Regions from separate parts of the Homo sapiens genome. Here regions 2, 3, 4, 5 and 6 are each reported to be linked to region 1. Evidence: microRNA targets listed by miRTarBase, many of them from high-throughput screens and not tested one by one. Region 1 holds a microRNA gene; each other region holds the end of a gene's coding sequence.
The links. Region 1 holds the annotated microRNA hsa-miR-4698 (UCAAAAUGUAGAGGAAGACCCCA, at 1,240-1,262, opposite strand). A microRNA usually pairs through its seed, bases 2 to 8, with sites in the 3' UTR of a target mRNA and lowers its output. Matches are read on the target gene's strand: a 7mer-m8 pairs with bases 2 to 8, a 7mer-A1 pairs with bases 2 to 7 and ends in A, and an 8mer does both.

Region 2: the mRNA of CCSER2 is a reported target of hsa-miR-4698. Seed matches in the 3' UTR shown: 7mer-A1 at 2,740-2,746, 8mer at 1,884-1,891 and 8mer at 1,623-1,630.
Region 3: miRTarBase lists SECISBP2L as a target of hsa-miR-4698. Seed matches in the 3' UTR shown: 7mer-m8 at 688-694, 8mer at 915-922 and 8mer at 2,919-2,926.
Region 4: miRTarBase lists RAPGEF6 as a target of hsa-miR-4698. Seed matches in the 3' UTR shown: 7mer-A1 at 1,093-1,099, 7mer-m8 at 1,409-1,415, 7mer-A1 at 2,819-2,825 and 7mer-A1 at 3,117-3,123.
Region 5: the mRNA of RGP1 is a reported target of hsa-miR-4698. Seed matches in the 3' UTR shown: 7mer-A1 at 1,787-1,793 and 7mer-m8 at 3,737-3,743.
Region 6: the mRNA of DNAJC28 is a reported target of hsa-miR-4698. The part of its 3' UTR that is shown has no 7-base or 8-base seed match.

The regions. Positions count from the first base shown.
Region 1 is chr12:47,185,014-47,189,121 of GRCh38, reverse strand. It overlaps MIR4698 (microRNA 4698), which reads right to left and starts at 1,310; the gene lies at 1,231-1,310. The region is part of intron 2 of PCED1B (PC-esterase domain containing 1B); the gene reads right to left.
Region 2 is chr10:84,513,964-84,518,071 of GRCh38, reverse strand. It overlaps CCSER2 (coiled-coil serine rich protein 2), which reads right to left. Exons shown (of 10, transcript NM_001284240.2): 10 at 1-4,108. The coding sequence ends at 3,805. Among named protein-coding and RNA genes, the nearest start is that of CCSER2, 190 kb to the right of the region's middle. RefSeq lists an enhancer at 3,490-3,659.
Region 3 is chr15:48,988,751-48,992,858 of GRCh38, reverse strand. It overlaps SECISBP2L (SECIS binding protein 2 like), which reads left to right. Exons shown (of 18, transcript NM_001193489.2): 18 at 1-4,108. The coding sequence ends at 615. Among named protein-coding and RNA genes, the nearest start is that of SHC4, 27 kb to the right of the region's middle.
Region 4 is chr5:131,423,465-131,427,572 of GRCh38, reverse strand. RAPGEF6 (Rap guanine nucleotide exchange factor 6) reads left to right here. Exons shown (of 28, transcript NM_016340.6): 28 at 282-3,652. The coding sequence ends at 307. Among named protein-coding and RNA genes, the nearest start is that of CDC42SE2, 160 kb to the right of the region's middle.
Region 5 is chr9:35,752,127-35,756,126 of GRCh38, forward strand. It overlaps RGP1 (RGP1 partner of RAB6A GEF complex), which reads left to right. Exons shown (of 9, transcript NM_001080496.3): 8 at 1-19; 9 at 525-4,000. The coding sequence ends at 748. MSMP (microseminoprotein, prostate associated) reads right to left here and starts at 2,150. Exons shown (of 3, transcript NM_001044264.3): 1 at 1,874-2,150; 2 at 1,534-1,642; 3 at 864-1,154. The coding sequence starts at 2,003. The coding sequence ends at 974. RefSeq lists an enhancer at 764-1,963.
Region 6 is chr21:33,484,793-33,488,900 of GRCh38, forward strand. It overlaps DNAJC28 (DnaJ heat shock protein family (Hsp40) member C28), which reads right to left. Exons shown (of 2, transcript NM_001040192.3): 2 at 3,263-4,108. The coding sequence ends at 3,435. Among named protein-coding and RNA genes, the nearest start is that of DNAJC28, 4.9 kb to the right of the region's middle.

The sequences.
Region 1 (4,108 bases):
AGATAAAAAACAATCAAAATGTAAGATAGAGGAAATGAAAAAGAACAGCAAAGTGAGCTGAATCATGAACAGCAGGAAATCTCGAGATAAGTGGAGGCTGTCCCTACATATTTCTGGTACTTTGAGTAAACATGGAGAGAAAGTTCACAGTGACCTAATCAGAAGCAGAAATGAAAATGGGGCAAAATGCCATGTGGGGGCATTTTGCAATAAGAAGCAACAGGAGTCTGGCACCTAAATCCAGCAACTGTGTAGCCAGGGTTGGAAAAAGTCCAGGTTACCAGCAACATGCCTGTTTTTTACGGAGAATGAGTGAAATGAATATGCTCCCAATGGTCCTCTGAGTTCTTCACATTCATCCCAACTCCCTTGCTCCTCTGCTCCAGCACTGCAGTGGAACTGGATGGCTACAGCTTACATTGCACGTTTCAATTTGGGCGATGGATGAGAACTTCTGTACTATGTTTGCATCTGCAAGACTCTGCTACTCTTGTTTTTAACTTCTGGATGTTCAGGTACACATTGAAAAAAGGAAGTCCTTAACTCTGAGAAGCAGTATCGTCCTGAAACTACCTAAGAAATGGCTCAAATCCTTTCAATTTCCAAGGAAAGCAAAAGTTACACATTAGAAACTGAGATGACAATACCTAAGCATATAATTTCATTGAGATAGATTAGATTAGCTTCAGGGACATATATGGCTCACAGTATATTCCATGCTTCTCCATAGGCCAGGAAGATTTGCAGCTAACACCCTTCCTGAATTCTTGTCCCTATAGGGCTTTTGTGTGGGACATCATTGATCCCTATGAGTTCCAGCTGAGGAATTTATGACATATTCTATTCCCCCCTGAGATTAGCCTTTAATAATTTATTTATTCATCCAACATTTAAGAGACCCCAATGGTGTTAGATGCTGGGAACCCAAAGACAACTAAGGCAAGATCACTGTCCCCAAAGTCCTTAGTAAGGGGAGATAAGACATGTAATTTTTAAAAGCCACAAAATGCTATGGTGCCATGACAGAGGTATGTCTGGGGAACAGAAGGGACTCCAAGAAGGAAGAGGTGCTTCCAGGTAAGACAAACTGTGGAAATAAAGCAGCTATAGGGCAAAGAACTTGTTGCAGTCAGGAAGATGCAGGTAGATCAGGTGACCAATTACAATCCTGTTCTTGGAGCTGGTAGGATAAAGGACAGACCCAGGTGGAAGAGGCGCAGGTGAAAGTTTTGCTCCTTCTGGGGTCTTCCTCTACATTTTGACCCAGGCCCGTCTAGGTGGAAATGTAGAGGAAGACCCCAGGAGAAGCATAACTTTCCTTTAACCCATATATCACAAGACTTGGCTGCCTTATGATGAAGCTATAGTTCCCAAATATGTCTTCAATGAAGAAAATTTAATGTTTAGGAATTCTAGAACTTGCAGAGTTGGGAGTTGCCTGGGAGATGAAATGTTCTCTCCATCACCTCCAGCCCTTGGTGCTGAGTTCATTAGCATGTTTAGTTCTAATTTTAGCTATGAAAAAATATATTTTAAAATATTGACACATTTATTATTTAGTGCTGGATTTAACTGTTTACACTTTCACTGATAAAAGATTAAAAATATGTCTTACTATATACTGCTGCCTATAGTTAAAACAGCATCCCTGTTTCTCTTTTTCTCTCTTGTTCTCTATTTTTGAAACTGAGTTAATAATCCCCTTGATGTAGAGATGGGGGATTTTCATCAGTACCAGATCATTTCACCTGCCTTTTCTCCTCCCTGAGATTTCCAATTTCCTGGTGCTTCCTTTTCACTACATTTACCACCCATTTCTTGGTTTTAGGTAAGATCCCATGGTCTCTCCCTATGAACACTATCTCTCACATAGTGTCAGCATTTCTAACTTCTTACCCTGGAGCTATCCACCTGGATCTTTCACCTAAACTCCTGAGTGCTTCTGGAGAAGGTAAAGATCTGTTTTGAGATGAATCTCAAACACTGTTAAGTAGGGCAGCATTTCTAAAGTCCACAGAGCAGCACAGTGGTCCACCTTCAAGTGTGATAGGCACTACCCACTACCTCCCCAAGAGCCATTTTCCCTTCTTTCAGTGTGTTCAGGTGGTAAGGAGAGATCTTTGCTTCCAAGGAGAGTGGTCCCCGACTCCAGGATAGGCCTAACCAGTCATGGAAATCTCCTTCCCTTTATCAATTGGTTGTTCTTGGTTTGGGCATTTGACCTTGTTCTGGCCAATAGGATATAAAAAGAAATCAGCTGGAGATATCCTAAGTAAAGACAAGATTTTGTGCTGTGTTAATTTCCTTGGGCTGCCATCACGAAGTATCACAAACTGGGTAGATTACAACAGAAATGTAGTATCTCACAATTCTGAAGGCCCTCAGACTGAAATAAGGTGTCAGCAGGGCCATGCTCCTTCTGAAAGCTGTAGGGGAAAAAACCTTTTCTTGTCTCTTCCTGGCTTCTGATGCTTGCCAATGAAGGGGTTTGGATTATGCCACCCCACAATATGCCACTCTGGCATATGGATTATTTTGACTTGAAGGCAACTGAGAAAAAGCAGACCCAGGATGAGATCTCTGTCCGCCTCCTATCTGCCTGAAAACAGAACATAAGCTCCCCTTGTGAAAGTGCCCCCCTCTACCCCCCTACCAGTAAAGGGATAACATAAAGGGACAACACCTTATCACTGGAGACAAGATGTCATCCAGAGGAATCTACAAAAACAAAACGTATTAACTAGCCCTCATCTACCATAAGTTTCCCCATATATTTGCCTTCCCACAATTTGCTGCCCCTAGAAGCTCAAAGTCATTTTCCTTTGTCTTGCCACTTCTCTACAAAATTATTGTTCTTTGCTCAATTCTATGTAAGTTCAAGTTCTTTTTTTTTTTCTTTTTTTTTAGACGGAGTCTCACTCTGTCACCCAGGCTGGAGTGCAGGGGCGCGATCTTGGCTCACTGCAACCCCTGCCCCCTGGGTTCAAGCAGTTCTCCTGCCTCAGTCTCCTGAGTAGCTGGGATTACAGGGGCGTGCCACCACATCTGGCTAATTTTGTTATTTTTAGTAGAGATGGGGTTTCACCATGTTGGTCAGGCTGGTCTCAAACTCTTGACCTCGTGATCCGCCCACCTTGGCCTCCCAAAGTGCTGGGATTACAGGTGTGAGCCACTGCACCAGACTAAGTTCAAGTTCTAACCACTCCTTTGAATTACTTATTACTGAATACTCCTATGTGTATGTGCAATGCATATTTCAATAAACTTGTTTGTTTTTCTCTTGTTAATCTGTCTTTTGTCAGTCTAATATACAGTCTTTTTTTTTTTTTGAGACTGAGTCTAGCTCTGCTGTTGCCCAAGCTGGAGTAGTAGTACCACGATTTCAGCTCACTGCAACCTCCACCTCCCAGGTTCAAGCAGTTCTGCTGCCTCAGCCTCCTGCATAGTTGGGATTACAGGTGCCTGCCACCAAGCCCAGCTAATCTTTGTATTTTCAGTAGAGATGGGGTTTCAACATGTTGGCCAGGCTGGTCTCGAACTGCTGGCCTTAAGTGATCCACCCCCGTCAGCCTTCCAAAGTGCTGGGATTACAGGTGTGAGCCACCGTGCCGGGCCACTCTAATATGCAGTCTAATTTTCCCTAGCTGGAGAACCTAGGATGGGTACAGAAAAGGTAATTATTTTCCTCTCCTACACCAGCAATACTTGGCATTCCTCGGCTTGCAGCTTCAATACTTCAACTTCTGCCTCCTTCTTCACAGGGCTGTCTTCCCTCTGTGTGTGTCTCTGCCTTCACATAGCGTTCTCTTCTTGTGTCTGTCTCTGTTTTTTCTTTTTGTAAGGACATCAGTTATTGGATTAGGGCCCACCCTGGTTCAATATGACCTCATCTTAACTAATTACATTTGCATTCCAAATAAGGCCACATTTGCAGGTATCTGGGTTAGGATATCAACATATCTTTTTTGGGGACACAGTTCAATCCATATAAAGGCCTTTTGCTCCTGCCTTTCATCTACCTGGAGATGCAGCAACATCTTGTGACTATGAGGCTACAAACATGAGGAAACAAGTTTACAAGCTAAAGCTGGTGGAAAGGAAAGCTAGG
Region 2 (4,108 bases), not on the chromosome of region 1:
AGGAAAAACATCGGGTAGTACAGCTATAATTAATTTTCAAATGTGTGCTTAAGCATGCAAACATAACCACCCAAACGAATTTAAAAACACAAAAACTACTGGGTAAGATGGAAAGTAAATTGAAATGGTGCTGCAGCCTTATTGATCTTAATTGCAAGCCTGTTCGGTGATTTCAAAGTACATCCCCAGTGCCCTAGAGACCAGGAAACCAGTATGACAACTCTGCTCAGAAACCAAGAGTGCACCTCAGTGTCTGTAACACCATTTATGCTACAGGAACATTTGGAAGTGACAGCTGTAGGGGGATCACGCTCTCTCTGATGTACTGAGAAAAAAGTAAAATACTTATCGGAACAATGGAACATTCAAAGAAAACTTAGTGCTTTAATGGAAAAGTGACATGCTGGGAATATATTTCTGTGAACAGCTGTACTGATATCTTCAAACAGCAACAATTACAAATTTATTTCAACAAAGCCACACCCAATAGGAGGCAATTCGATATTTCAGGCACAACTTCAAGCAATTAAGCTCATTTAAAGTGCAAATCTGATATTTTCTTTCATATTCAGATTTTTACTTGTTAAAGTACTTAGTAAATTCTAATATATATATAAATACAATGAACAGTAGCCTATATGCCTGAAAATATTGCACAAATAAAAATGAGACTCCAAAAGAAAAATGTTAGATGGTCTCAGTTATTAGAAACAGTCTAAATGACATAACTCTATAATCCTTTAATGCCTTAAAATCATCTGCACCTGTACCAATAAACTCCTTAGGCCAAGCCTTCTTTTAAAAATTTGATATGCATCCCATTAACAGCCAAATATCAAAGTCTGAATACTCTACTAATTTCCTCTTTCACGAATGTGAAACTTAACAAACCCCATAAAATTTCTTCCTCAGGACTTAGAATTCATATACTGTAACTATCTTCATTGATACCACTAGAACTAAGACAATAAATGGTTTGTGGAGGAGGATTTGGCACAGAGTTGATTTACATTAATAGAAGCAATAAACACAGATCAAGCCAAATCTAAGATGATCTTTGATTATTCAGTAGAGTTACATCCTCACTTCCATTTCAGACTTAACATTTACTAAGAAGCAGACAAGCATGATATTCTTGCAGTTTTTAATGAAAACTGCAGGCAAATACTTTATGTCATGCAAGCATCCTAGATTTGTTTTCTTTTAATATATTATGCTTCATAAATATACGATAAGCCTATCTTCTAAAAGATTAAGACTCAACAAAGGTAGAGAAAAGTTGAGCTAATTGGTTAACATTTCTGCAAATCCATCAGGGAAGGAAAAAATAGAGAAAAATGGAGTAAATACATGGAGGAAAAAATAGAGAAAAATAAATTACTGGAGTCAACATTTTTATGTAATGGACAATAAAGACATTTCCCTCAGACTAGGGAATTAAAAATAAATTTAAAAATTTAGAACTTTTCCCTTAAGGATAAGGCCAACTCGTAAATAATGTTTCATAAGGGTCTAAACCAACTTCTAAATAAACCAAAAACCACTAAGTCACTGGTTTTACTTTAGGGGAATATAGTATGATTCACATATTTGCAACATGTGAGAACGGTTTTCTTTCTCCTTCAAAATGATAGAACATGTATGCCCACTTACAACTGCAGCCATCATGGGTCATCTCCATAACAAAGTGCTTTGCTGATTTGCCTGACTCTAACAGTATCTGGACTATGTGAAGAACGTTCTGAACTTCACTGCTTCTCCATCAGAAGTGCTGGTACATAAGAGTATGGTACAAGATTTGTCTTGCTCACCTCTTACCAAATCCAAGAATGGTTTCTATCCAGTGAATGGCAAATTCATCTGATAGGTAAGGGAATAATGGGTCAAAATGGTAGCAAACACTTCTTTCAAATTTCTACTAAAAGACTTGCTGTTGTTTTTCTTATAAAGGGGCAATTTCATCAACATACATCTTTTAAAGGAATCTCTAGAAATTTGAGTGACTTTTTGGCCATAATCCTGTTTGATATATTTTTGGTCAGCTGCTCAAAACAAACATTCTCCTTGTAAGGTTATCTATCTGAAAGATACTAATTCATTTAAAGCAGCTGCAGGTGAACAACCTAAAGATGACATGATTTGGGAGAAGAGGAAGGCAGATTTACTGAACTGACAAGTGACCCAAAGCATAATTAGGTTTGTGCACATGGTAGCATGGAGGTTCCACACCTACCTTCTACAGCGTATTAAAATAAGAATATTGTCTTTGAAACATCTTCTAGCACCTTTTTAATAAAACAAAATTTCCCATCTTCAATTCTATTTTTTTCCCAAATCTACCTTTAAAAAATTGTCTTTCAAAAATACACCATAGACGAGGTGGGTGGATCACTTGAGGTCAGGAGTTCGAGACCAGCCTGACCAACAAGGTGAAATCTCATCTCTACTAAAAATACAAAAAAATTAGCCAGGCATGGTGGCACATGCCTGTAGTCCCAGCTACTCAGGAGGCTGAGGCAGGAGAATCGCTTGAACCCGGGAGGCAGAAGTTGCAGTGAGCCGAGATTGCGCCACTGTAATCCAGCCTGGGCAATGGAGCAAGACTCTGTCTCAAAAAACAAACAGAAAAAAACAAAAAACACAGAAAAGGGAAACCTAGGAGACTGGAGATGGGGGAGGGGGAGAATATTATGAACTCCAGCTTTCTCAAGATAGTCTTATTTAAATTTGTTATTTTTCTCAAAATATTTTAACTTGTTTTGCTATAGAAAATAGTTTACAATCCCTATATATGGTATATTTATACCCCATCAAAGTTTTGTGCAAATGTTTCAAGTTCATTATTTCAGTCTTCAGATATTAGCAGAAAATCAATAAATATAAATATTACAATTAAAGACATAATGCTGTGGAACCTTAAAATGGCTATCATGGATCCACAAGCCTAAGGGTTCAAGCCTGAATTACCAGCAAAACTCTAGCACCAACATATGTTACAAATGAATACATCTTTAGGTACAGGTTTCAAGGTGTATCTCAAGCGCTCCAAAATTTACCCAGTAACAAATACAAACATAAATGGTATGTGTGTGTATATGTGTGTGTGCATGCACATGTGTTTGTAAAACAAGATGTAAAGGAATATATAACTGATTTATATGTAATAAGAAACACTTTCAGTCTGGGGAATTTGGGAAATGAATCAACAGTAACATTAGCTGACTGACCCTGGCAAGGAAAAATAAAACTTACATAGACTTTCCATTAAAAGCCTAATCTCCTTTATTCATCACAAAGCTTTTGCATAGACCTTTTAAATATACAAAACACTGGCCAGAACTCTGCTTACAGACTACCATCTTCCATTATCACCATATCTTTAGTTAAAATAGTAGCCATATTCACAGGAGAGACAAGTGAAAAGGGGTGAGGTTCTGACAACCACAATAAATACAGACCTTAATAGGACTAAACCAGCAAAGCACACTTCTTGCCTGCTCAGTAAAATATTATGAATTTTCTGACGTGGAGAGGGATGGATAACATGATTTGGGCCTTTGGCAGGCCTCTGAAATGGGTAAGCAAACTTTCGTGTTTACCTGAGATAATTATGCTCAAATGGCATGTACTTCAACCAGGATATAAAATGAAGGAGCCAAACTAGTAGAAGCTTCCACATTTTAATTTAAGATTTGCAGGCTTTCAATGGAACCTCCACCACAGTAGCAAGCTGCAAGCTGCACATAAAGCTATTACAGAAGAGATTGTTTTTAAGAAACAAATTGGCAGGTGATGGCTATGTACTTAATGTATCTTTGGTTTAGGAAGACGAGAATATCGATTAGAGGCCAAACAATCCCCAGAATGCAAATTGCCATTTGGATTCTGCATGATTTCTTTTCGTTGTGTTAGTGGCCTTGGGATGCTTGTCTTGGCCTGGAAGCTTTGAGGCTCTAGTTGGGGGCTGTTTGTTTGTTTTTGTTTGAAAGAGCCTGAGGGGGGGCGGAGCTTAGATGCTTTCAGATTCTGATTATTTGCAAGATTTGTTTGACTAGATGTTGGCTGAAGTTTTGCTGAATTACATGTTGTGATTATTGGTGACTTTTTA
Region 3 (4,108 bases), not on the chromosome of region 1:
TCCTGTAAGCACAGCACTTCTGAAAAACCCAGTAAACTTCCATTTGACACACCCCCAATTGGTAAGCAGCCATCATTAGTGGCTACAGGCAGTACTACCTCAGCTACAAGTGCTGGGAAATCCACAGCAAGTGATAAAGAGGAAGTGAAGCCAGATGACCTGGAATGGGCCTCACAGCAGAGTACAGAGACTGGCTCTTTGGATGGCAGTTGCCGAGATCTTTTGAATTCCTCCATCACCAGCACCACCAGCACTCTTGTACCTGGCATGCTTGAAGAAGAAGAAGATGAAGATGAGGAGGAGGAGGAAGATTATACTCATGAACCCATATCTGTAGAAGTGCAGCTCAATAGTAGAATTGAGTCTTGGGTCTCAGAGACCCAGAGAACTATGGAAACCCTTCAGCTTGGAAAAACCCTTAATGGTTCTGAGGAAGACAATGTAGAGCAAAGTGGAGAAGAGGAAGCAGAGGCGCCTGAGGTGCTGGAGCCAGGGATGGACAGTGAGGCATGGACTGCTGACCAGCAGGCCAGTCCTGGGCAGCAGAAGTCCAGCAACTGCAGCTCGCTCAACAAAGAGCACTCTGATTCTAATTACACAACGCAAACTACGTAACTCAGGAAATGTCGGCTCTCTATCTCCAGCTGTGGAAGGGTTGCAGCCATTACCTTTTATGCTTCATCTCAACATTTTGCACTGTCCAGTATTTAATATACGTATTTAATTCCCAACAAATATTTTTGTAGCTTTTACTTGTTATGATCTGTAGCTTAGCTTTTAATTAGTATCTAAGTGTCTTTCTAAGAACTGTGTGGAAAATTCAGATCTGTTTCAGCTTATTTTGTAATCAAAAACAGTGATAAAAAGAAGACCAGATCTTAAAGAAAATAAATTTCAAATGCTTACTTAAAAGACATTTTGAAAGTTAAAGAACAAGGTTCTAAGGATAGAAGCAGTTATCAGTGTTTGCTTCAGGACTCCACCTCCTCTACTCTAATTTGACCAAAAAATTGTTTGGGCTTCTTTAAAAAAGAACTGGGGGTGGAGTCAGAAAATTAAATGAAAGGCTGAGGGTAACTAAGTCCACCAGTGTTGTATGTTAAAAAATCAATGCAACTTTTATGTGGTCCACAAATGTTTAGTCAGAAGTCACTGATTATTGTAATTAATTAGTGTTGGGATGGGCTAAAACAGAGCCTTCAAAACTTCGGCTAGCAGTGGAGCCACCATCTTAGATTATAGCTAGCTAGCCTCATTTGTGGAAAGTGATAGATGCTGTCTATAATAGTGAACAGTCACCCATGATAGGACCTCCAGGTTCTGTCTCATATTTGCTTCTTACTTACCTCAGGAATGCTCTTGTACATAGACTTATTTACAAAAAGCTAGGCACATGTTGACAGGTGAATAACTGTAACCGATTGTATGACTGCTGCACTTACATGTAAACTCTTCAGAAACAGAGTCTTATACTGGTGTGTTCTCTTGCATGCTTCTGGTTCAGGACTCTTGATTTGAGATATGGATTTGATTGAGTATCCAAACTTGTCCTGAGTGCAAAACTGTTTCACCTTTTAAAAAATACCTATTTTGCACCTAGCCTTGAGCACCTTCCACATAGCAATGACCATAGTTACTGTCAGGAGGTCAAGGAAAGGAACTTTGCACAACTTGTGACATGTATCCTGATAATCAAGGCTTAGAGGAGGAAGTTTTAGAAGATAAGAGAAAGTTGTTCTAATTGTGCTGAAACTATTAGATGATTTAGAGTATACAGATATGTAGGTATTAATTCTCTATTCACTATTATTTATCTCTGCCCTTCTCTAGGAGTTTGTATACCTGCTTAGGAGACAATAAATGAGCTAAATGTTTTATTTGCTAGTCAGTCACCACCTGGACTTCAGTGACTTTACAAGTTTATGTAATGGTGGAAGAATGACAAACTATGTAATTTTTTTGTCTTCCATCCAACTCCCCACCACCCCCAACTGTCCCCCCCACCCCCCTCACACACATGCACACATCCGTACGTGTGTGTGTTTTCCACTTACAAGCTTCCATAAGCAGGCACAAAACTGAGAAGGAAGGGGTATTATCCCTGCCCTGATTATCTGGGGCAGGGCTTTGCCTCACAGAGGCAGGAGAGAAGAATTGGGCAGATTCTTTACTGAACTCATTGGGACTACTGTGCTAGTTTTGATGTTTTATAATGCTGGCATTTAATTACTGGAGAGATTGGATTCTTGGTTGATGATTTAGTATTTGTGAATTGTGAAAGTTCAGGAGCTGTGTAGAAAATGTTAGTCAATCAACTTTATTATTGTGCTAAAAGGGGACATTCTTATACTGTCCTGTCTAAACTGTTCTCCAGTATAGACTTCCTAGGCACTAAATATCCAATATTTAAAGGAACACAGCAGGTAAGGAATGAAGCCTCTGAAATAGTACTCATGGATTTATACATGGCAGATCTTACTGTCTCTACACATTTGGAAGTGTTCGTTGGTTTAAAGAAATGATAGAGGTTTTGAACTACTGACAGTCTTAAAAGTGAATTTAAAAACTGTTCATACTTTTTATGGTGTAAATTTCCTTTGCTCGATGTCAGTGATTCAGATAACTCTTGACCTTGAGATGATGGCTTTTCACAGGTTTCTTATATTTTATATCTCTTCTGAACATGAATTGTCATTTTAGATTTTTGACATTTGTATCAAAAGAGAAGTTGAGGAAATCTTCAGAACACTGGTAACTTTTAGTTTTGCTATAGACTTCAGAAGTGTTTATTTATATGTTCGGTAAATGCTCTCGCATATGCAGTACCTCTTCTGCCAGCAAATCCAAGGGACCATAGCCTTTTTATGAGACAGGTCACCTCTAGAGGACAACCCAAGAATTATTAAAGGAAATGTTACCATTTTGAGAGCATGCTTAAATAAATATTAATAATGTCTTTATAACTTGTTTCCTTTAAATTTTGGAATATTGAATTACAGGCTTTGGAGGAGTTGTGAAAATTAGGAAAGTTTTTATATATTTTTTGAAGTGGGCATGGTTGGCTCTTTGAAGACCTATAAAGAGATCCAGTGGGAAGAGTAAGGGTTGGTTCATCATCACAAGAAATAAAAAACATAGTGATTTTTTCTCTTAATGTGTAGAGGTGGTTTTACTGGCAATAATTAATAATAGATTTCTATTTCAGTATGTAAGCATATTAACTAAAATATGAATTACACTTCCAAAGTTAGATTTCTGCTTCAGTAGGTTTGTTTGCTGTGAAGATTACTTCTCAAAAGACAGATGTTCATATTAGCTTAATTTTCGGTTTAAATATGTTTGTAAATGATGTAATATATTTCTTTTGACTAAATGTGGAAAAGTAATGTGTGTTATACATTGAGAAGTTTTTACTGGCTTTGACTGGAGGTTGTTTTTGCAGAGATGGTATTTTATATGATTCCAGTATTTGGAAAAGAATTAGTCAAAAGGAATTCACATAGTTTAAATACTGAGAAATTAATATCCAAATATGTACTTGTCTGATTTCTAAATAAGCTGGGGGAGGAGGGAGGGGTGGGAATTGAAATGTGCAAATGAGTAGTGAATGCTACACTCATTTTCAACTCTTTAACATGAAACTGTTCAATCTTAACACATTGTTACTTTAATATATGTATAAAGAAGTATTACTGTTTGTAAAGCTGCTGTTTGCTTAAAAAAAAAAAACACCCTTGTCATGTATTTTCTGTATGTTGGGCCAACAGGTTAGAACATCAACTCATTTAAAAATTTTTATCTTTTTTTGATTTAAAAAAATTCTGTGAAATAATTTATTTACAGACATCTTCCTCCTCCCTCATCCCTTCCAACCTTTACATACATCACAGAATCAACCAAACTGTTTGCCTAATCTGAAATCTGAATCCTAATGAGAAAAATTTAAATTTTGTTGGCACATCACACCTTGAAAGTATTTGTATTATTTTATAATTTAATTTCTAAATATACCACATAAGTTTATAATTTAATGTCTTAATTGTAATGCTCTAATAAAAAACTAGCAAAATTAGTGTGAGTTATAACATGAAGGGATTTTCATCTTTTG
Region 4 (4,108 bases), not on the chromosome of region 1:
CTGTGCCAATAGTTTGAGAAATGATTGTTTTATTGAAAATAAATGAAAATTTATGCTTTTAAACAAGAGTAATAAAATGATTAAAAACCATGAAATTCCAGTTTATTGTCAACCTTCAATGTGATCAGAAATCATAGGTATTATTATAATAAAATCTGGGCCTCGATGCAATGTTTGAGAGGATTTCTTTGTTGACATTGATTTTCTAAATAGATAACTAGATTATTAGGATCTCATTAATATGCTGATCTGCCAGTTAATTATATATTTTTTATTTTCAGAAAATGAACAAGTTTCAGCAGTCTAGCCTTTGGATGACCTATTTGAAAACCACTGAAAGTCGTGGAGGAATGGGCAAGAACCACCTCATGATTCTGCAGGCCATTGCTAACGAACAGCTCATTGCTACAACCAGTCCAGAGGTTTTATTCCCTCTACTCCGAGCAATGAAATAGACCTGAGTTATGCTTCCTTTCATTTAATTTCTGCAGATAAATAGTTTCCTGAGCAATGGATGCTATGCCTGGATACCAGTCTCCACTTTGCACGCCGGAACTGCCTTGGGACCACAGTTACAGAAAAAATGTAAACTCAGAGTGATCCTTGTGTATATTGCTATAGATTTTTCTTTAACAAGCTATTTTAAAGATAATGGCATTATTATTTCCAAGCCATAGCTTGGGCTGAAGGACAAATTGAAATTGTCTGCCAATACCAAGGATATTCTTGTATATTTGAAAAATAACTTATTATTTGAATTGTTGTGGTTTTGTTTGTATTTGAGAGCTCTTGTTAGCTGATATTCATGTTTGAGGTCATAAAATTGTCTCTGGTCTGACCAAACAGAAGTCATCTTTACAGAGGTGATATGCTTGATCTACACAGAGATGTGACTTGATCTGTAGCACCAATGCAATGTAGGTCTCAGTTTGAGAGAAATAGGAAGCCCTTTGCAGTTGAGGTGTTAGGAACCTGCTGGTCATGGTGTGGAAGGCCAAATGAAGCTGCCACAGGGTTTCTTGTCAGTCCTTTGGGAAATGGGAGGGAGTAGTTTGGGGAGGAGGGTGGGAACCCTAATTTCCACAGAATGAAATTTTGATGTTAAATGACATGTATACAAATTCTTCCTTAAGTGAAAGTTATGCTGCATCGAATTGTAACTGAAAGTATAGATCCAACAAATAGAGACTGGGTTCTAGAGAGTTCTGGTCTATAGAAACCCAAAACTAAAATCTCTCATAACTCAAGTATGGAATACTTTTTTTAAAGAAATTCTTATCATGGGTGTTGTAATAATGAAGACGAATTTGACTTTATGCAGTGTTCTGCAGCATGCCTCCCCCACATCTCATAGCACCAGGTTGTGTCTGACCTGACATACCCTGCAGCTCTCAGCTGGCTGCAGTAACATTTTGTGGGAGAAAGAGGAGCTGGAGTTACAGAAATGATTGTCTCTTGGTTCTCAGTTTTTAGCCCTTGAGAGGACATACTTTTCCAGCCTCATGGGTATGGCACTCTTAATTAAAATTTCAGTGACTGTTTACTGGATGAGGCAGATTTTTCACATTTTTGCAAATTAAATATATTTTATATATATTAAGTTTAATTTTTTCAGTTTTTTTAATGTAAAAGCAAGTGAAATTTTAATAAACTTCTGTAATTACCAAAAAAAAAAAAAAAAAAAAAGCCAAAGCCATTAACGTGCACTACCCAGATCAACTTGGAGCCAAAAGGGGTTTACTTCTGAATGGCTGTCCGTATGTGTCCACATAGGATTTAGTTGGTTTGTGGCCTCCTTTATAGAAATGTGTTGTCTTTCCCTAGCTGTCTCTGCTGTCTGTCTTCCTGCATATCCCCCTTCATTTTAAAATCATGAATCAGTTGTAAGTGGTAAATGGTAGTAGTTCATCTTTCCCATCAACATGATTGTCTCTTTATTTTAGGAATAATAGCATTTCAAAAATTCCTGTGGTAAAGAAACATTAATCTGAAACTTAAGCCTTAGAAATTAATCGCAGGTATGATAGAATGAGGCTTGGTGGTTCCATAGCTTTCTTGGTCCTTTGAAATGGGAAATAACCTGAACCAAAAATCCTAGTTTGAAAGTTACACTTCAGTGATTTGGCCTATAAACAGTGGTCCTATGATTATACATTTTTTCCTTCACTGATTTGCATAATTTTGTTTTCATGGCCACAGCAAAACAATGTGAAATATATTTTTGCTATACCCACTTTTTTTATCAAATTCAGATGTCTACTCTCACCATTTTATATTCATTTCCCCAGAAAAATGTGCTGTTTTCATAATGTCTTTATTTAGCAGGTCTTTCAAACCAAATGGAAGCCTTACCTGTCTTTGTCCTTAATAGTGTAAATATCTTGCACAGAGTGTTGAGGCCTATGGTTTTGGACTTGCACCTTACAGCTGCCTTTGTTTTATCTATCTAGCTTTAACTGTGAGTGTTCAGATCAGCTGATCACATTGATCAGGAGCCAAAGCCAAATGCTTTGTAGTTTGTTATGTATGTATCCCTTAAAAAATCATGAGGTTTTGATTTTTATATTTTAACTAAGGGTACATTCCTGCCTTCTCTTAGTTTGTCATATGACTAGAACAAGAGAAGTCTTAAGCTGCATTTACTCCAATTCCAGATCTCCATTTGTTTTTGTTTTATAAATTTATAATCTTAATGAAGAGACTAGTGCCCTCTCTTCCTGCCACAACTCTCAATCTGCCAAGACTGTTGAAGCAGTTAACGCTCAGTGCAAACTTTTGCCAAATAGTAAGTTTCAACAAAATATCTTTATAGTGAAAGATTTTGAGAATTAGTAAATCCAGTACATGATTCCATAAAAGCTTATTAAAGTTAATAATTCTAATTTACTCCAAATGATTACTTTCAATATGATCTTTGGGGAGAAAAAGCCTTTAGTGAATTTTCTTGAGGGTGATAAATCACATCATTGCGATCTATATCACCTCCTTGAGAATCTCTCCCAGGCTGAAAATGTGATGGTAATCATGGGTGTTTTTAAGAACAAATCTAATTTTTATCAAGTGTTCTTTCCTCTACAAAAAAGGAAGGAGGAGAAAAAGCTTCCTTAAAACTGATTATTTTGATTCAATTTTAAGTTTCTAAAAAAGGTGATATTAAAGTATATGTATTCCTTCAGCATTACCTTAAAGGCTAGAAAAACGGGATAAATCTTCAGAAAAGTGTCAAAAGTGTCACAGTACATGTTCAAATTTAAACTTGAATCCTGGTTCATCTTTGACTTTTGTTGTGCATTTTTAATGCTTCTTTATTTTTGATACACAGAATGCAGTTGAACTTGATCTTTTAAAATTGAGACATGTAAGCTAATCAGCAAAAGACAGAAACAAAACTGCACATCTGTAATAATCAGATAGCAATTCTACTGCACAATTCATTGATTGTAAGGTATCCTGTAACAAGCAATGTTTGTCTCCTATTTTTTGATACCTCTTAAACTTATGTCTTTTAGAAAGACAGTGCCTCTGTATGCTTTTTGTATTTTTACTGAGTGTAAATATTTGTTATATTTTTGGTTAAGAGAATGTAAAAATACCATTTATTATTATCATATCTACTAATACATTGGTGGAATCAATAAAGAATCTACATTAATCTTCTCTGTACTTAATTATAAATGTATGGAACTGATGAAATAATTACAAACTTAGTCATTCGAGAGTGCCAGTCTGGGACCTGTGTTGGTGTGAAGGCCTTATTTTTTAACTATCCAGAAAAATTGGAGTGGTCCATTTGTTGTTGGTTATGTCAAATCTGTGAAACACCATAGCTATTGTTTAGGTTTAAAAAATTGTGTTTGATGGCATACCAAGTTAACAGTGGCTTAAACTCAATTGGGGCTTGTCTTTTTGTTATTGTTGTCTGTTTCTTTTTCTTCTTACAGTAGAAAAGTCTACAGACAAAACTGTCCGGGGCTGATACTGTAACTCCTCCACGATGCTGTCAAGGATGGCAAAAGTAGGGGTGAAAAGGATAGGCTTAGGTAAGGAAAAGGTGCAAATATGTGTCTCTTTCTACGCAAAGAGAACAAAACAGTAGTTTCCAGAAGCT
Region 5 (4,000 bases), not on the chromosome of region 1:
GGCTTCTGTACAGCCATTGGTGAGACCCTCACTGTTACTGGAGAAGGGAGAGGGGGACAGTAAAATGCTGTGCTAAGGGAGGGTGTAATGGATCCTGATTCCTTATACACACTCCCAGACATACCCACGTCTAGCCTCTGACCCGGAACAGTTTCTCAGACCTTCAACCTCTTCCTGTTTCTTAGATGCACTGACCCCTAAACTCCTAACAGCTTGATAGAACTCCTTCCCCACACCTACCTACTAGGACCCTGTGATACACTGATTTTTGATTACTTCATGCTACCTAGACTTGACTGCCTCACTCTTAGGTTATTAGGTACTTAATACTGCTATCTTCAGCTCACATCTGTGGTAGTACCCATTGCTTCAGAAAAACCCTTAATCACAGCTCCCTGCCCTGTGACTTTTCCCTGTCTTCCTGAACACAGATTGTTTTCTTCTCATTCACTAACTATATCCTGTCATTGGCTTTTACTCCTGCTAGCTTCTGATGCTTCTACCTTAATCTTTTTCTTCCATAGTGTCCTTGAAGTGGAGATTGCATTTTGAATTTGTAACGTCCCGAGAACCAGGATTGGTACTCCTACCCCCTGTGGAACAGCCCGAACCTACCACCTGGACAGGACCTGAGCAAGTACCTGTAGACACCTTCAGCTGGGACCTGCCCATCAAGGTGCTGCCTACTAGCCCCACCCTGGCCTCATATGCTGCCCCAGGCCCCAGCACCAGCACCATAACCATCTGAAACTGGCCCACCCTGGTGCTAGTTCCTTCCGGATACTGAGAACTCAGCACCTGGACTCTAATGGGACCCACTTTTTCCACCTGGGGTCCAATGTCGTGGACAGTGAGAGTCGGGCTTTCAGCTATAGCATTAATTTATTTGTTCAGAATACATTGGCAGCTGCTAGTGGTTTCCCTGGAAGTGGCAGCAGCAGTGAGCAGTCAGCAGATGGATGATCAGTTGAGTTTAGCTGGAGTGGGGAGCAGGAGCCCCAGGAACAGGGGTGTTGGCTGAGCCCCATTCTGGGTCAGGCCCTCCCCCTTTGCAGGGCAGCCGAGGGTCAGATTTTTGCACCAAGGAGAACTGGCAGGTTCCTGCCTCCTGACGTACCTCACACCCAGCCGGGAAGTCGATGGGATGCTGGGACCTGGGGAACCAAGGATAGGGGAAGGAGTCAGCACAGTGAAAGGCTGCCTTTATCCCTGCCCACATGTTCCCTCTCTCACAGTTTTCCCCCCACAGAGCCCCTTTCAGTGGCCCCTTGGTCCTCCTAACTAAGCTGTCACCTACCATATGTGGGCCTTTTTGTTTTATAACAGGAGTATTTTCTCTCCAGGTCCACCCCAACCTCCCCTGATTTATAGCCTGAAGCCTTATCTTTCACACTAGTGTTGGTCCCTTCAGGTTTGGCCCATCTTGTATTGCTCTTCTGTTCATTCTTACATCACAGCAATCTAGTCACTCCCTGGTCATCCCTCAGTCACTCATATCAGAGTCATTCTCTCTGGCCATCTTTGGTCACTCACGTGTCACAGCAGCCCACGCCAACAGGATGCAGACAGGTGCAATGGAAACAGTCCTTGCGGAGCCAAGACTCACCCAGGGTAAAATATTTCCCCTCATAGTGACAGGGGGCTAGGGAAGAACGGGAAATGTTAGTAGGTGTAGGAGTGCTGATGAGAGGCAGAGGCTCTTCTGGTCTGGGGTGGAGACAGTAAGTACGCACTATCCCCGTATTTAGTTTGTCTTTCCTGTTTCACAGCTGGAGGAAGCCTGGGTATTTTGACACGGGATCATCTGTAAGGCCCCATCCTCCCTGTGCCCTCTCTGCTGCTCCTCCATTCCTAACGCTTCACCCCACTTTACCTTGAGCTTGGAAGTAGCACTTGCTGTAGACTCCTGGGTGCTGGAGGAGTAGAGACATCACCAAGCAGATGATCCCCCAGCCTCCTAGGATCCCCTTGGCCTGTCCAGCCCAGAGCATCCTTAGGGCCATTGCTGCTGCACAGCCCTCTCAGACCCTTCTTGGCCTCTGCTCAGCTACTCTGGTCTTGACTCCTTGACTTTGCTTTGCGTTGCTCCTTGAGTCTTAGTTTCTGTCTTTCTCCCCTGGGCTCCTGTCTCACACTATCTCCCTGCCCTCTGCTCTCACAGGCTGGGGATGTTTATAAAGTGAGGACCCTGGCCCCCTGCTGAGTAGAGCTGGAAAAGTTGTAACTCTGTTTCCTGAGGTGAGGGCATGAAAACAAGAGGTCTAGCTTTAACAAGCTGTGAGAGCTGATTCATGCCCCGGCACAGCTAGAGGGAGGGAGGTGGCCATGGAGGGGGCACTGGACTGGGCACTTCCCCAGCAAGGAGGCAGGAGGGGCGAGGGCCCCCAGGTGGTCCCCAGATCTCTTCCCTGACCTGGAGAGAAGGAAGCATTCCACCTTCCCCCTTTCTCCCCCACTGCCACCACCAGGGGTGTGTATGCTGGGATCCCTGCCTGGACCGGAGGGAGGCATTTCCTGGGGATGGTTAATCCTGTGCCCCAGCCAAACCCAGGAGCTGCAATAGGGTGCGACGGCCAGAAGCTCCAGGAGAGTGAGCAGGCACCTGGAGTGGAGACTGTGTTTCCCTCAGATCCTAGGGCAGGGTTTCCCTAATGTATCCAAGAAATAGGGCTGCCCCTCAGAGATGGTGGGGAGGGTCTCTTTTCCTCAGGCATTCCAGAGGTGAACTGTCCATTGCTTATCACCTTCAAACATACAGCAGATGTGGGATCACCCCACATCTGGGGATGGTTCTTTCCCCTTTCAAAGAGGAGCATCTCTAAGTGCCCTGATGGGATGAATCACTCCAGGTTCACAGAGGTGTCCTCTCTTTCCTCCCATATATAATGGAGTGAGGTTTTTAGGAATTTATCATTTGGCATCCTCTGAGTTTCCCACAGGTTCTGGAGGAGCCCAGGATGGATTATTGAGAGCATGGGCTGTAGAGACAGTCTTCTTGGATTCAGATCCTGACTCCACTTAGCTATGTAACCTGGTCAGATTACTTCACCTCTCTGAGCCTGTTTCCTCATCTATAAATTGGGGATAGTAATGCCAACTCATTGGGCTGTTATGAGGATTACTGAGATAATGCGTGCAGTGCTCTTATCACCATCTCTGGTGCGTAAGCGTCAGGAAATAGCAGTTGCTGTGATTGGGGCTAAAGCTCTGAGGCAAAATGGGCGACATTATTTTCTTTGAATGACATTAAGCAGTTTGTGCATAGCTGAGGGCTTCTATTGGGGATGGCTGTCTCCTGGCATAGACCTCTGCACCTTTCACACTCATACTCCTTGTCAGCAGTCCCCAACCTTTTTGGTACCAGGGACCGGTTTTGTGGAAAACAATTTTTCCACCAGTGGATGGAGGGGGATAGCAGCGGGGAGATGATTTTGGGATGAAACTGTTTCATCTCAGATCATCAGGCATTAGATTCTCATAAGGAGTGTGCAATCTAGATCCCTTGCATGCGGAGTTCACAGTGGGGTTTGCACTCCTGTGAGAATCTAATGCCTCTGCTGATCTGCCAGGAGGAGGAGCTCAGGCGGTAATGCTCACTCGCCTGCCGCCCACCTCCTGCTTTGTGCTCCCGCTTCCTAACAGGCCACAGACTGGTACTGGCCTGTGGCCTGGGGGATGGAGACCCCTAATCCATGTCACCTTTCCCACCTCTTTCAAAAACAGGTACCTCCAGGAACATTTTGGTTTTGGCCCTTGTATTGACTTCTGAATGTCTAGTTTGAGAAACTGTTCCCAATAAGCCTTCTTCCCCCAGATCTGCACCCTCGCCTCTACCCTAGGACAAGATGTCCTTTTCTCATCATCCTGCCAGGCTAACTTTAAGTCTCCTGCTTTTTCTCACTTGGATTTGGATCCATTTCTTCCTATTTCCGCTCATGTGAACTCTCCAGTTCTCCTTTCTCACCACTCTCCTGCTAGCCATCTCTTTGGCACTAAAGGC
Region 6 (4,108 bases), not on the chromosome of region 1:
AGGTTACAGTGAGCCAAGATCGTGCCACTGCACTCCAGCCTGGAAGATTTGTTTTTCATTTTTTTTGAGAGAGGGTCTTACTCTTGCCCAGGCTGGAGTGCAGTGGTGTGATCATGGCTCACTGCAGCCTTGACCTCCTGGGCTCAAGCGATCCTCCCACCTCAGGCTCCCAAGTAGCTGGGACTACAGGAATGTGCTACCACACCTGATTTGTTGTTGTTGTTGTTGTTGTTTTTGGTAGAGACAGAGTTTCACCATGTTTCTCTGGCTGGTCTCAAACTCCTGGGCTCAAGCAATCCTCCTGCCTTGGTCTCTCAAAATGTTGGGATTACAGGCATGAACCACCGTGCCTGGCCAATCAAAAAGATTTTTTTAAAAAAATGCATTCAGGGCTGGGGGCGGTGGCTCATGCCTGTAATCTCAGCACTTTGGGAGGCTGAGGCGGGTGGATCACCTGAGGTCAGGAGTTTGAGACGAGCCTGACCAACATGGAGAAACCCTGTCTCTACTAAAAATACAAAATTAGCCGGACGTGGTGGCACATGCCTGTAATCCCAGCTACTTGGGAGGCTGGGGCAGGAGAATCTCTTGAACCCACTAGGCAAAGTTTGCAGTGAGCCGAGATTGCGCCATTGCACTCCAGCCTGGGCAACAAGAGCAAAACTCCATTACAAAAAAAAAAAAATTAGATGCCTAGCCCAAAATATTATTACCATTATAACAAAGGGACATTGAATAATTATTATAGTAACTTTATTAACATAGACAACATTTACAAACATAAAGTGCACTGTGCTGAAATTAAAAATTTACTGACATTTTCTGGTAACCTTACCTTCTCATTGACCAATATGGAAAATGGTTTTGTTCATCTATGTTGCTGTAATGCAGTTAAGCCTCTTACGTCTAATTCCCACTTTTTTTTTTTTTTTAAGACGGAGTCTTGCTCTGTCACCCAGGCTGGAGTGCAGTGGCGCGATCTCGGCTCACTGCAAGCTCCACCTCCTGGGTTCGTGCCATTCTGCTGCCTCAGCCTCCCCAGCAGCTGGGACTACAGGCGCACACCGCCATGCTCAGCTAAATTTTTTTGTATTTTTAGTAGAGACAGGGTTTCACCGTGTTAGCCAGGATGGTCTCAATCTCCTGACCTCATGATCCGCCCGCCTGGGCCTCCCCAAGTGCTGGGATTACAGGCATGAGCCACCGCGCCCGGCCTCGAATTCCCACTTTTAACAAGAGTCACAAAATTACTGCCTTCTAAAATGTTTTTGGAACTATAGCTCTTATTAAGCAACATTCCATACTGTTCACAATTTTATTTACAGTGATACTATCATTGTAGAAACCAAATGACAAATCATTCAATAAATTATAATCACATATTATGCCAATTAATGCTGCAGCATCTAAGCTAAAGGCCAAAAATTTCTTTTTGAAGGTGTAGTTTTGTTTGTTGTTTTAACTATCACACATTTTACAAAATAACACTTTCTTCCAAAATGCAGGTGGTGAGTCCCTCACTTCTGAACCACTTCTGTAACACAGCACTCTGGATTAAAGAAGGAAACACTGCACTCCAGCCTGGGCAACAACAGCAAAACTCCATTTCAAAAAAACAAAGTGGCCACTGGACCAGGCACAGTGGCTCGCGCCTGTAATCCCAGCACTTTGGGAGGTTAAGGCAGGTGGATCACCTGAAGTCAGGAGTTCGAGACCAGCCTGGCCAAAATGGTGAAACCCCATCTCTACTAAAAAAAATAAAAATTGGCTGGGCGTGGTGACGGGCACCTCTAATCCCAGCTACTTGGGAGGCTGAGGTAGGAGAATCACTTGAACCCAGGAGGCGGAGGTTGCAGTGAGCCAAGATTGCACCATTGCACTCCAGCCTGGGCAACAAGAGTGAAACTCCATCTCAAAAAAAAAAAAAAAAGCGGACACTGGAGTTTTTTTCTAGAATTGCTAAATCAACTAGCTTCACTGATTTCTGCAGCCAATAAACCATCAAGTTAGACAGGAAAAAGTAGAATCTGGATGTTTGGTGTGTTTTTCATTCAGTACCCACAGAGAAGGCCCTCATAAAAAGAAAAGTACAGTAATTCCAGTAGGCTAATTTTCTGATCTTAATATTTCCACCCATATGGAGGGTGTCCCAAAAGTCTTGGAACGGTTTTGAGCCTTAATAAGTTCAGGAATATAAATCCAGCAAGCTCGTTTAAAAAAAAAAGTCATCTGGAGGTTTAATTGGTTAAATTTCATAACACTTCAGTTTTGTGACTTTTGATAACATATTTTTCGGTTTCCCTGTTGTTTAAGTACCTATGTTTGAAAATGGCAACAGTCACTGCTTTTAAGTTAGTTATTACAGCTCAAAACTGCACCAAAACTTTTGGAATTCATGTATGATTCCTAAGTCAGAAACCTGATCCTAGCTCATTTCACTGGATGACCAACATTTTAACACTAGAATGAACTAAATTATTTTCTTTAGAAGTTTCAGTTATTTTTGGCCAGGCATGGTGGCTCACGCCTGTAATCCCAGCACTTTGGGAGGCCAAGGGGGGCGGATCATGAGGTCAAGAGATCGAGACCATCCTGGCCAACATGGTGAAACCCCATCTCTATTAAAAATATAAAAATTAGGCCGGGCATGGTGGCTCAAGCCCGTAATCCCAGCACTTTGGGAGGCCAAGGCAGGTGGATCATGAGGTCAGGGGTTTGAGACCATCCTGGCCAACATGGTGAAACCCCGTCTCTACAAAAAATACAAAAATAGGCCAGGCGCGGTGGCTCACACCTGTAATCCCAGCACTTTGGGAGGCCGAGGCGGGCGGATCACGAGGTCAGGAGATCAAGACCATCCTGGCTAACACAGTGAAACCCCGTCTCTACTAAAAATACAAAAAATTAGCTGGGCGTGGTGGCAGGCGCCTGTAATCCCAGCTACTCAGGAGGCTGAGGCTGGAGAATGGCGTGAACCCAGGAGGTGGAGCTTGCAGTGAGCCGAGATCGCGCCACTGCACTCCAGCCTGGGCGACAGAGTGAGACTCTGTCTCAAAAAAAAAGAAAACAAAATACAAAAATAGCCGGGTATGGTGGTGTGTGCCTATAATCCCAGCTATTCGGGAGTCTGAGGCAGGATAATCACTTGAACCTGGGAAGCAGAGGTTGCAGTGAGCCTAGATTGTGCCATTGCACTCCAGCCTGGGTGACAGAGCGAGACGCCGTCTCAAAAAAAAAGGAGTTTCAGTTATTTTCTTTTCTTGCTATATCCTCAGGACAAACCTGATAGGTTTCTCACTCACACATCATTGGCTATGTGATTAGTTTTGTGATAAGTACAATGGCACAATTCTTAAATTCTTGTATTATAGCAATAAATCTCATTTTCCATGTAAAGTGTCAGTGGAACTAAGAATGATTTATGATAGTAAACATCAAAATGATCGTATTTTAATAAATTTCCACAGATTCATCCAGTTTAAAAAACCTTTCTTGATTTCAGGTGTTTTCTCTCCTTCTCCTTGATCAAGGTTATTTGGGTTTCTATCTGTGACTTCTTTTGTTTTTATAAGGGTCTCGTATATTTTCTGGGCTCTGACAATTTCTTTCTGAGCATCAAAATGGACTTTTTGCCTGGTCAGGATGGGAACAATTAAATTAAAATCATTAATTCGCTTGTTTAATTTTCTGATGTTTTCTTGAAACTGCTCACAAACATGGTTCCACTGTTTCTTTTCAGTTGGTGTCATTGGATTCCCAAGTTTTTTCCTAGACACTAAAATTGCCTCTCTGAGTTGCTCAATAGTATCGCTTATTTCCTTTTGCTTAAGGATCCATTCTGGTTGGTATCCATTATCGATCAGTATTCGGTTCAGGTTGTGAGTCATGGGATCAATGTAAGAACAGTCAGAAAACTTTTTCAGAGGTTTTCCTTTCCCACTGAGATTGTCAAAGTCTCCTTTTGCCATGGATTCTTGAATGAGGTCCTCCACTAAACGTTCTATAGCTTGCGTTATCTTTTGCTGTTTGCTCTGTCTTATATTTTTAACAATTACACTATCAGGAAAATACTGGCTTTGTAGTTTCTGCTTTTGATATTCCATCACTT